Regions from separate parts of the Homo sapiens genome. Here region 1 is linked to region 2. The links come from fine-mapping of genetic effects on gene expression. A gene starts in region 2. The other region holds a variant in brackets. All regions are shown on one strand. Distances are between the middles of the regions. Region 1 overlaps DDB2 (damage specific DNA binding protein 2). Region 2 holds the start of ACP2 (acid phosphatase 2, lysosomal).

Region 1 (5,373 bases), 23 kb after region 2:
ATATTGATCTTAAACCCTCCGTCTCCACAGACTAGAAAAAGAGGGAATAATTCCCAAGCTAAAGAGGGCAGCATAATTTTTTTTTTTTTTGAGACAGAGTTGTGCTCTGTCGCTCAGGCTGGACTGCAGTGGTGCACTCAGCTTACTACAACCTCTGCCTCCTGGGCTCAAGCAATTCACAGAAATCAGCATAATCTTTTTTTTTTTTTTTTTTTTTTGAGACAGAGCCTCACTCTGTTGCCAGGCTGGAGTGCAGTGGTACGATCTCACCTCACTGCAACCTCCACTTCCCAAGTTCAAACGATTCTCTTGCCTCAACCTCCCGGGTAGCTGGGATGACAGGAGTGCGCCACCACGCCCAGCTAATTTTTGCATATTTAGTAGAGACGGGGTTTCACCATGTTGGCCAGGATGGTCTCCATCTCCTGACCTCATAATCCGACCCCCTCGGCCTCCCAAAGTGCTGGAATTACAGGCGTGATCCACCACGCCTGGCCAGAAATCAGCATAATCTTGATACACAAATGTGACAAGGATTTGGCCAATTTTACACATGAACACAAATGCAAAGATCTTAAAATATTTGCCAGCTCAATCCAGTAATATTTAAAAACGATAAATATGTTATGGCCAGGATGAACTTATTCCAAGAATGCAAAGTTGGTTTAACTATTAAAAATCAATCGGGCCAGCTGGGCGTGGTGGTGGGTGCCAGCTTCTTGGGAGGCTGAGGCAGGAGAATTGCTTGAACCCGGGAGGTGGAGGTTGCAGTGAGCCAAGATTGCGCCATTGCACTCCAGCCTGGGTGACAAGAGTGAAACTCCATCTCAAAATTAAAAAAAAAAAAAAAATTCAGGCATCAAAAGAAACAATCGACAAAGTGAAAAGGCAATCTATGAAGTGGGAGAAGATATTTTCAAATCATAGATCTGATAAGAGGTTAATATCATGGCCGGGCGCAGTGTCTCACACCTATAATCCCAGCACTTTGGGAGGCCGAGGCGGGTAGATCACCTGAGGTCAGGAGTTCAAGACCAGCCTGGCCAACATGGTGAAACCCTGTCTCTACTAAAAGCACAAAAATTAGCCGGGCATGGTGGCGCATGCCTGTAATCCCAGCTACTCAGGAGGCTGAAGCAGGAGAATTGCTTGAACCCGGGAGGTGGAGACTGCAGTGAGCCGAGATTGAGCCATTACACTCCAGCCTGTACAACAGGAGCAAAACTCCATCTCAAAAAAAAAAAAAAAAAAAAAAAAGGTTAATATCCAGAATATATAAAGAACCCCTACAAAACAACAACAAATAACCCAACTAAAAAACAGGCAAACAGGAGTTCAAGACCAGCCTGGGAGACATAGCAAGATCCAATCTCTATAAAAAAAAATTTTTTTTTAACTTAGTAAGTCCTTTCTGTAAGAGACAGCGAAAAAAACAAAACAAAACAAAGTTAGCAAGGTATGATGGTGAGCACCTGCAGTCCCAGTTACTCGGGTGGCTAAGGCAGCAGGATCACTGGAGCCCAGAAGTTCGAGGCTGCAGTGAGCTATGATTGTGCCACTGTACTGCAGCCTGGGTGACCAAGTAAGACCCTGTTTCAAAAAAAAAAAAAAAAAAAAAAAAAGGCAAAGGACTTGAATAGACATTCCTTCAAAGAAAATATACAAATGGCCAAGAAGCACACGTAAAGATGCTCAATATCACTAATCATTAGAGAAATGCAAATGAAACTACACTGCTATCACCTCACATCCCTTAGGATGGCCACTATCAAAAAAACAGAAAAGGCCGAGCATGGTGGCTCACACTTGTAATCCCAGCAATTTGGGAGGCCAAGGCAAATGAATCACCTGAGGTCGGGAGTTCAAGACCAGCCTGGCCAACGTGGCAAAACCCGTCTCTACTGAAAATACAAAAATTAGCCGGGCATGGTGGTGTGCGCCTATAATCTCAGCTACTGGAGGCTGAGCCAGGAGAATCAGTTGAACTCAGGAGGCAGAGGTTGCAGTAAGCTGAGGCTGTGCCACTGCATTCCAGCCTGGGCGACAGAGGGAGACTTCATCTCAAAAAAAAAAAAAAAGAAAATAAATGTTGGTGGGGAAGTAGAGAAGTTGGGACATTTGTACACTGCTGATGGGAACATGAGATGGTATAGCCAGTATGGAAAACAATATAGCGGTTCCTCAAAAAATGAACAACAAAATTACCATTTGATGAAGCAATCGTACTTATTGGCATAAGCCCCAAAGAACTGAAATCGGGGTCTCAAAGGGATATTTGCACATCCACATTCACTGCAGCATTATTCACAATAGCCAAAAGATGAAATCAACCCAAGTGTCTGTCAATTAATAAACAGATAAACAAAAGGTGGTACACGCAAACAATGGAACATTATTCAGCCTTAAAAAAGGAAATTCTGCCACATGCTACAACATGGATGAATCTTAAAACACTGCATTAAGTGAAATAAGCCTGTCACAAAAAGACAAATACTGTATGATTCCACTTAGATGAGATATCTAAAGTAGTCAAACTCACAGAAACAGAAAGTAGTACTGTGGTTGCCAGGGGCTAAGGGGAGGGAGAAGTGGAGGCTTGTTCAGTGGGTATAGAGTTTCAGTTTTACAAGAAAAAAGTTCTAGTGATCTGTTGCACAACAATGTGAATATAGTTAACATTACTAAACTGTACACTTAAAAATAGTAAAGATTGTAAATTGTTTTACGTGTTTTCTACCAGTTTTTTGTTTTTTTTTTTTAAAATAGAGATGGAGTCTCGCTCTGTTGCCCAGGCTGGAGTGCAGTGGCATAATCTCGGGTCACTGCAACTTCTGCCTCCCGGGTTCAAGTGATTCTCCTGCCTCAGCCTCCCCAGTAGCTGGGATTACAGGCGCCCACGACCATGCCCAGCTAATTTTTTGT[G/A]TTTTTAGTAGAGACGGGGTTTCACCATGTTGGCCAGGATGGTCTCGATCTCCTGACCTTGTGATCCGTCCACCTCAGCTTCCCAAAGTGCTGGGATTACAGGCGTGAGCCACTGAGCCTGGCCCACAATTTTTTTTAAAAAAAGCAGTATTACTTGTTAGAGTTTTTTTTTTTTTTTTTAAAGACACAGGATCGGGCCAGGAGCAGTGTCTCAAGCCTGTAATCCCAGCACTTTGGGAGGCCAAGGTGGGTGGATAACTTGAGGTTAGGAGTCTGAGACCAGCCTGGCCAATATGGTGAAACTTGGTCTCTACTAAAAATACAAAAATTAGCTGGGCGTGGTGGTGCACACTTGTAATCCCAGCTACTCAGGAGGCTGAGGCAGAAGGGTCGCTTGAACCTGGGAGGTGGAGGTTGCAGTGAGCTGAGATCTCATGCCAGTGCACTCCAGCCTGGAAGAGAGAGTGAGACCTCATCTCAAAAAAGAAAGAAGAGGAAATAATAAATATGAGGAGAGAAATGGAAGACATGAAAAAAAATCCAAATTAAACTTCTAGAGGGGATATACAGTATCTGAAATGAAAAATACGCTGGGCTACTTTGCCTATGGAGCAGCCCTGCTCTGCACAGGCAAGAAAGAGAAGAGAAAAGGAAGAGGAAGAGAAGAGAGAGAAAGGAACGAAGGGAGGGAGGGAGGGAGGGATTGACAGCAGAAGGTTAGATATTACAGAAGTAAAGATCAGTGAACAACTGCACAAAATGAAACAGGGAAAAAGACAAAAATGAACAGTGCATCAACCACCTGCAGGACCATATGTAATCGCAGTCCCAAGAAAAAAAGAACTGTTCTTTTTCTTCATTTTGAACTCTTTGTAAGAAATAATGGGCTGGGCAAGGTGGCTCACGCCTGTAATCCCAGCACTTCAGGAGGCCAAGGTGGGCGGATCACTGGAGGTCAGGAGTTCAAGACCAGCCTGGCCAACATGGTGAAACCCTGTCTCTACTAAAAAAATAAAATAAAAATAAATAAATACAAAAATTAGCCAGGTGAGGTGGTGGGCACCTGTAATCCCAGCTACTCGGGAGGCTGAGGCAGGGAGAATCGCTTGAACCCTGGAGGTGGAGGTTGCAGTGAGCCGAGATTGTGGCACTGCACACCAGCCTGGGCGACAGAGTGAGACTTTGTCTCAAAAGAAAAAAAAAATCCATAAATCAAAGAAGCTTAGTGATCCCCCCACAAGCACATCATAATCATTTTTAAAGCGACCAGAAGAAAAATTACATAGACAGGAACATAAGGATAGTAGCAGACTTCTCATCAGGATGTTTTGTTTTGTTTTGTTTTTAATTGAGACAGGATCTTGCTCTGTCACCCAGGCTTGCCTAGCTCACTGAAGCCTTGTCCCCCTGGGCTTAAGCAATTCTCCCACCTCAGCCTCCTGAACAGCTGGAACTACAAGTTCAAGCCACTAGCTAATTTTTAAGATTTTTTTGTAGAGATGGGGTCTTGCTGTGTTTCCTAGGCTGGTCTTAAAGTCCTGGCCTCAAGAGGTCCCCCAGCCTCAGCCTCTCAAAGTGTTGAGATTACAGGCATGAACCATTGAGCCCAACTAGAAATCATCTTTATTTTTATTCTTTATTTATTTATTTATTTTAGACGGAGTCTTGCTCTGTCACCCAGGCTGGAGTGAAGTGGCCGATCTCGGCTCACTGCCAGCTCTGCCTCCTGGGTTCACACCATTCTCCTGCCTCAGCCTCCCAAGTAGCTGGGACTACAGGCGCCCACCACCACGCCTGGCTAATTTTTTTTGTATTTTTAGAACAGACAGGGTTTCACCGTGTTAGCCAGGGTGGTCTCAATCTCTTGATCTCGTGATCCGCCTGCCTCGGCCTCCCAAAGCGCTGGGATTACAGGTGTCAGCCACCGCGCCCAGCCTTATTTATTTATTTTTGAGACACAGTCTTGCTCTGTCACCCAGAATGGAGTGCAGTGACACCATCTCGGCTCACTGCAACCTCTGCCTCCCAGGTTCAAGATTCTCATGCCTCAGCCTCCCGGGTAGCTGGGATTACTGGTGAGCGCCACCACACCCAGCTAATTTTTGTATTTTTAGTAGAGGCGGGGTTTCACCATGTTAGCCAGGCTGGTCTAAAACTCATGATCGCAAATGATCCACTTGCCTTGGCCCCCCAAAATGCTGGGATTACAGGCGTAAGCCACAGCGCCCAGCCTAGACATCATCTTTAAAGTACTGACAGGAGAAAACTGTGAACAAATATATTGTATGCAATAAAATACAATTTTAATTTACCAATTAAAAAATAAAAGTTAAATAATTTTAAAAACTGTGAACCTAGAATTCTATACTTAGCAAAAACATCCTCCCTCAAAATAAAGGCAAAATACTTTTCTAGATAAACAACAGTGGAAAGTATTTATCACCAATCTGC
Region 2 (5,373 bases):
GAGATGGGGTTTCACCATGGTGGCCAGGCTGGTCTTGAACTGCTGACCTCAGGTGATCCACCCGCCTCGTCCTCCCAAAGTGCTGGGATTACAGGTGTGAGCCATGTCCGGCCTAGGTCCCGTTTAGTCCAACTAATTTGAAAAGGTTTCCTTTGACAGATACCTCTTTATTGAAAGGATTTCGGGATCACCAATTACAGTTTAGTAATGCAGTTTGAGTAGCCTGCAAGAAGCAGCCCATTATAGACTATTTAACTGAAAATCACAAAACCTGACTTTTTTTTTTTGAGACGGAGTCTTGCTCTGTCGCCCAGGCTGGGGTGCAGTGGCACGATCTCCGCTCACTGCAAGCTCCGCCTGCTGGGTTCACGACATTCTCCTGCCTCAGCCTCCTGAGTAGCTGGGACTACCGGCACCTGCCACCACACCCGGCTAACTTTTTGTATTTTTAGTAGAGATGGGGTTTCACCATGTTAGCCAGGATGGTCTTGATCTCCTGACCTCGTGATCCACCCGCCTCGGCCTCCCAAAGTGCCGGGATTACAGGCGTGAGCACGCACCCGGCCAAAACTTGACTTTTAATCCATTCTCAAACTGTGCCCATGCCCAAACTGTGAATTTGGGCAAGTCACTTCCTCTCTTTAGGTTTGTTTCCTAAGCTGTAAAGTAAGAGGACTAGGTTAAATCAGGTATTCAGAGATGCTGATTTATGAAACCTGTAATAAATGGTCTTTGTGAACCATTTGGGATTATATGCAAAATTCCATGTGTGTGTTTATATGTGTGAACATTTTTCTGGAGGAGAGGTGCAAAATTTTCATGTGATTCATAAAGGGGCTTGTGATTAAATAAGAAGGTTAAGAACTGTTTGGCTACCCAGGCTTTGGCTCTTACTCTATTTGCTTCTTGGCCTCCTCCATGACAACTCTGGAAGCAAAGTTTAAATCCTGAAGTATATATAAATAATTGAATCTGGAGTCCTAGGACAAAATAAAGACAGATAATCCTGATCTTTTTTTTTCTTTTCTTCTTTTTGAGACACAGTCTTGCTCTGTCATCTAGACTGGAGTGCAGTTGCACCATCATGGCTCACTGCAGCCTCAACCTCCTGGGCTGAAGGTGATCCTCCCACCTCAGCCTCCCGAGGAGCTAGGACCACAGGTGTGTGCCACCACACCCAGCTAATTTTTAAACTTTTTTTTGTAGAGAGGAGATCTTCCTAAGCTGCTCAGGCTGGTCTCCAACTCCTGGGCTCAAGCAATCTTCCCACCCTGGCCTCCCAAAGTGCTGGGATTAGAAACGTGAGCCACCACACCAAGCCTAATCAGGTTTTTGTTGTTGTTGTTTTGAGACAGTCTCACTCTGTCGCGCAGGCTGGAGTGCAGTGGCGTGATCTCAGCTCACTGCAACCTCCGCTTTCCGAGTTCAAGCGATTCTCCTGCCTCAGCCTCCAGAGTAGCTGGGATTACAGGAGCACGCCACTGCACCCGGCTAATTTTTTTTTTTTTGTATTTTTAGTAGAGACGGGGTTTCGCCACGTTGGCCAGGCTGGTCTCGAACTCCTGACCTCAGGTGATCTGCCTGCTTCGGCCTCTCAAAGTGCTGGTATTACAGGTGAGCCACGGCGCCCAGGCCAAGCCTGATCAGTTTTGTTTCCCAAAGATCTGAGGAGATTTGCTTCCAGTAGGCAGATCTGAATCAAAGCATCCCCAGGACCTATGATCTGACCTGCAACCGTCACAGGAGTCACAAAGTCCTGAGGCCAAACTGGCTGCACCTGAATCCTAATGGTCAATGCCAAGAGGGCCATTGATTCTGTGGAAACCCCACCTACTCCCACTTTATGATATGCGCCTGTCCCTTACCTCAAAATACCTCCCCACTGGTCTGAAATTCCTCCCCCAGGGATTCAGTGCTTTGGGTTTGTAAAGTCTGAACATCCTGTGCAACCCAACTCCTTTGGGAAGAGGCATGACATGACGTCTTGACTCTAATTAACTAAAACTTGGAAGTGGAGGGGAGGGAGGACAGGGAAAGGACTGGAAGGGAAAGTGAGAGGGCTACTGAAGCTTTGTGCAGGGCAGGAACGGTAGGCCAGACTGGGGCAACCTCAAGGACACACGGAGTCCAAAGGGTTGTTTACATACTGTGTCCTGCACCCCAAGCAAAACATCTCCTGGAGAACAGGGCCAGGGCTCAATCTCCCCACAAAGGCAGGGGCGTGGAGAGAAGCGACCTCTACTTTCCCATCCCTCGCCTCAATTCTGCACCCGATCTAGCTATGGGGTCAAGCCTGGAGGGGACGCTGGTTCTCCAGACATGGTCCCGCCCACTGCAAGTGCCACCTTGGTAAGGGATTTCTCCGAGCAGAGGCAAACGCGAATTTGTGGCCTTCTTAATCAAGATGAGGTCTTCGAGCCCTGTCTGCCGCGCCAGGTCGCGTTACCTTCTTATGCTCCTCCGCCACAGCCAGACCACGACCCTCCTGCACGCAATCCCACCGAGACTGCGCCTTTTCCCCGCACCCCAGCAGGTCCCTAAGTAAGATGGCGGCGAACGCACTTCCGGCGTGTGTCCTTACGGGTGCGTCCGGGCGGCTGCTTGCAGGTGCCACCCAGCGGGTTCCAGCTTGTTTGCTGCATAGATTACAACGGTGATGGCGGGCAAGCGGTCCGGCTGGAGCCGGGCGGCTCTCCTCCAGCTCCTTCTCGGCGTGAACCTGGTGGTGATGCCGCCCACCCGGGCCCGGAGTCTGCGCTTCGTTACCTTGGTAATGAGAGATGGGCTCACCAAAGACTTCCCTGAAGCTAAAAGGGCAAAGGCCAGCTGGTGGAGGTCGAGGATCTCGGGAAGGAACAGCTGGTTTAGGAGGGGACGACTGGCCTGGGTAGTTGGGAGGCTGGATTCAGGATTGACCTGGAGCCCTGGCTTATGGGAGTCAGGATGACCGAATACGTCGGGGTGAGTCTGCCTTGAGACAGGGAAGTGGTTGAATGGTTAAGACTCATCCCTAAAGAAGCCTTTGGTTATCTTTTTTCCCCAGTTGTCCCCACCACATACGTTGCTTTCACTTCTCTTTTCCCTTCCTACCTGTACCTTGGCTTTGCCTATGGTCTCCAGTAGCATTGCTTAGCTAAGTTAGAATCTCTGGAATCTGGAAGAAGTGACTGACTCCTAGCTGGGGTCTTTTGCAGCCAGTAGGCTTCCCAGAGGGAATGAGACTTCCTTCCCTAACATGGGGCAAAAGGTAGGCTCTGGGTCCCTATCAAGGGGATGCTTCTGACCTATAGGCAAACCATTTTATTCTCTCAGCTGTACCGCCATGGAGACCGTTCACCAGTGAAGACATATCCCAAGGACCCCTATCAGGAAGAAGAATGGCCCCAGGGGTTTGGTCAGTTAACCAAGGTGGGTCAGAAGCCAGCCTTTCCTCAGGATGAGCTGCAGAATGAGCGACGTCTAGAGCAGTCTACAAAACTTGGGGTCCTACTAAACTGCCTTTTCCCATATGGGTGCTGACTTTGACCAGATTTCATAACCTTAATCTCTGTGCCCATGATATTGCTGTGCATGACTGGCCACTTAATGAAAGACTTCTGGGATCAGATTAATTGACTCCAGCAAAGCGTGAACCTGGAAAGCAACAGGGCCTAAACCCCATGGGGCTTGAAGCCACCCCTTCCCTCTAGACCCTCTTAACCCTTGGGTTTGCCCACAGGAGGGGATGCTACAGCACTGGGAACTGGGCCAGGCCCTGCGGCAGCGCTATCACGGCTTCCTAAACACCTCTTATCACCGGCAAGAGGTAAGGTTGGGAGCTCCAGAGGCAAGGGGAACAAGGTATGCTGCCCTCATCTTTTGCCCTCAGGGAGCCTAAGGCTGAGGCTGGGCACTTTGGCCTCCTTCTTGTATTTTTGGTCACAACTACAGGAAAAGACATCTGAGAGCTGTCTGGAACAAAGCCCTAGGAGCTGAGTTGCCCCTGCTTGGCTGGGATGAGGCAAATTTGATTAAGCATCCAAATTCGGACTTAAGGGCGGGCCTGGCAAAGTGGTTTCTGACTGTGAAATCACAGGCTTTCCATCCAAGACATTGAGTACCTATTAAAGGCCAAGGACTGTGCTAGCACTTTGCATTCAGTTGTGCACCATACAGATATGATCTCTGTCTTCATGGAGCTTAGAATGTTGTGGGGGTATCTAATGATAAACCAGACAGGGCCAAGATGAAAGACAGCGGGGAAGACATGCGTAGAGAGGGCTTGTCTTTTCTTGATCAAGATGAGGTTTTTGAGCCCTGTCTGCTGCGCCAGGTCGTGCTATATTCCTAGGGCACATCAGGGAGGACTGGTGAGTGTGCCTGCTCCTTGAGTCTTCGCCCCACCCCAGGAATGGGGGAAGCTGTTCCTCTGATTACCACTGTCAGCCTCAGCCGTATCAAGAATCCATAGACATTGTTATTGTTCTCTTAAGGCCCAGCTCTGTCCTGAGCTTGTCCTTCCCCAGTTTCCTCCTCCCTTTTCATGAGCCACTATCTCTGAATAAGCTCTTCAAAAAAAATTTTTTTTTTTGAGACAGAGTCTTGCTGTGTTGCTCAGGCTGGAGTGCAGTGACATGGTCTTGGCTCACTGCAACCTCCACCTCCTAGGTTCAAGCGATTCTCCTGTCTCAGCCTCCCAAGTAGCTGGGATTACAGGTGTGTGCCACCATGCCTGGCTAATTTTTGTATTTTTAGTAGAGACAGGATTTCATCATGTTGGCCAGGCTGGTCTTGAACTCCTGACCTCAGCTGATCCGCCTGCCTCGGCCTCCTAAAGTGCTGGGATTACAGGCATGAGCCACCGTGCCCGGCCCAAAATATATACATATATTTTAAAGGGGTCTCACTCTGTCACCCAAACTGTAGCACATGCCTCAGTCATAGCTCACTGCAGCCTCAAACTCCTGGGCTCAAGTGATCCTCCTGCCTCAGCATCCCAAGTAGCTGGGACTACAAGTGCCCGCCACACTTGGGTAATTAAAAAATTTTTTTTTGTAGAGACAGGGTCTCACTATGTTGCCCAGGCTGGTCTCGAGCTCCTGGCCTCAAGCGATCCTCCTGCATTGGCCTCCCAAAGTGCTAGGATTATAGGTGTGAGCCACCAGGCCCAGCCCTTTATCTTATTTTTTTCTCCCTGGTCTCTAAGGGTCGTCACTGGAGCCAGTTTCTGCCCCAAGGACCCTGATCTAGACAGGGAGAGAGGTGTTGTTATGAAACCAGACAGACCAGAGAGCCTTACTGATTGACTCAGCACTTTTGACTGGAAGGGGCATTTCAACTAAGGCCATTCCCACAAGAGTTCTTCACAGAGTGGTGACAACCCCCAGTGGAGTG

The links. PIP is the estimated chance that this variant, and not a neighbour inherited with it, causes the effect. A credible set is the group of variants that fine-mapping cannot tell apart.
Region 1: its variant is the best candidate, but not a certain one, in a credible set for the expression of ACP2 in whole blood (TOPMed, PIP 0.53).

The regions. Positions count from the first base shown.
Region 1 is chr11:47,222,984-47,228,356 of GRCh38, reverse strand. The region is part of intron 3 of DDB2 (damage specific DNA binding protein 2); the gene reads right to left. Among named protein-coding and RNA genes, the nearest start is that of DDB2, 11 kb to the right of the region's middle. The variant G/A (reference allele first, on the strand shown) is at 2,923.
Region 2 is chr11:47,246,073-47,251,445 of GRCh38, reverse strand. It overlaps ACP2 (acid phosphatase 2, lysosomal), which reads left to right and starts at 2,632. Exons shown (of 11, transcript NM_001610.4): 1 at 2,632-2,770; 2 at 3,313-3,408; 3 at 3,719-3,805. The coding sequence starts at 2,657. It also overlaps a transcript of NR1H3 not described here. RefSeq lists a silencer at 2,189-2,356 and enhancers at 2,437-2,946, 3,077-3,166.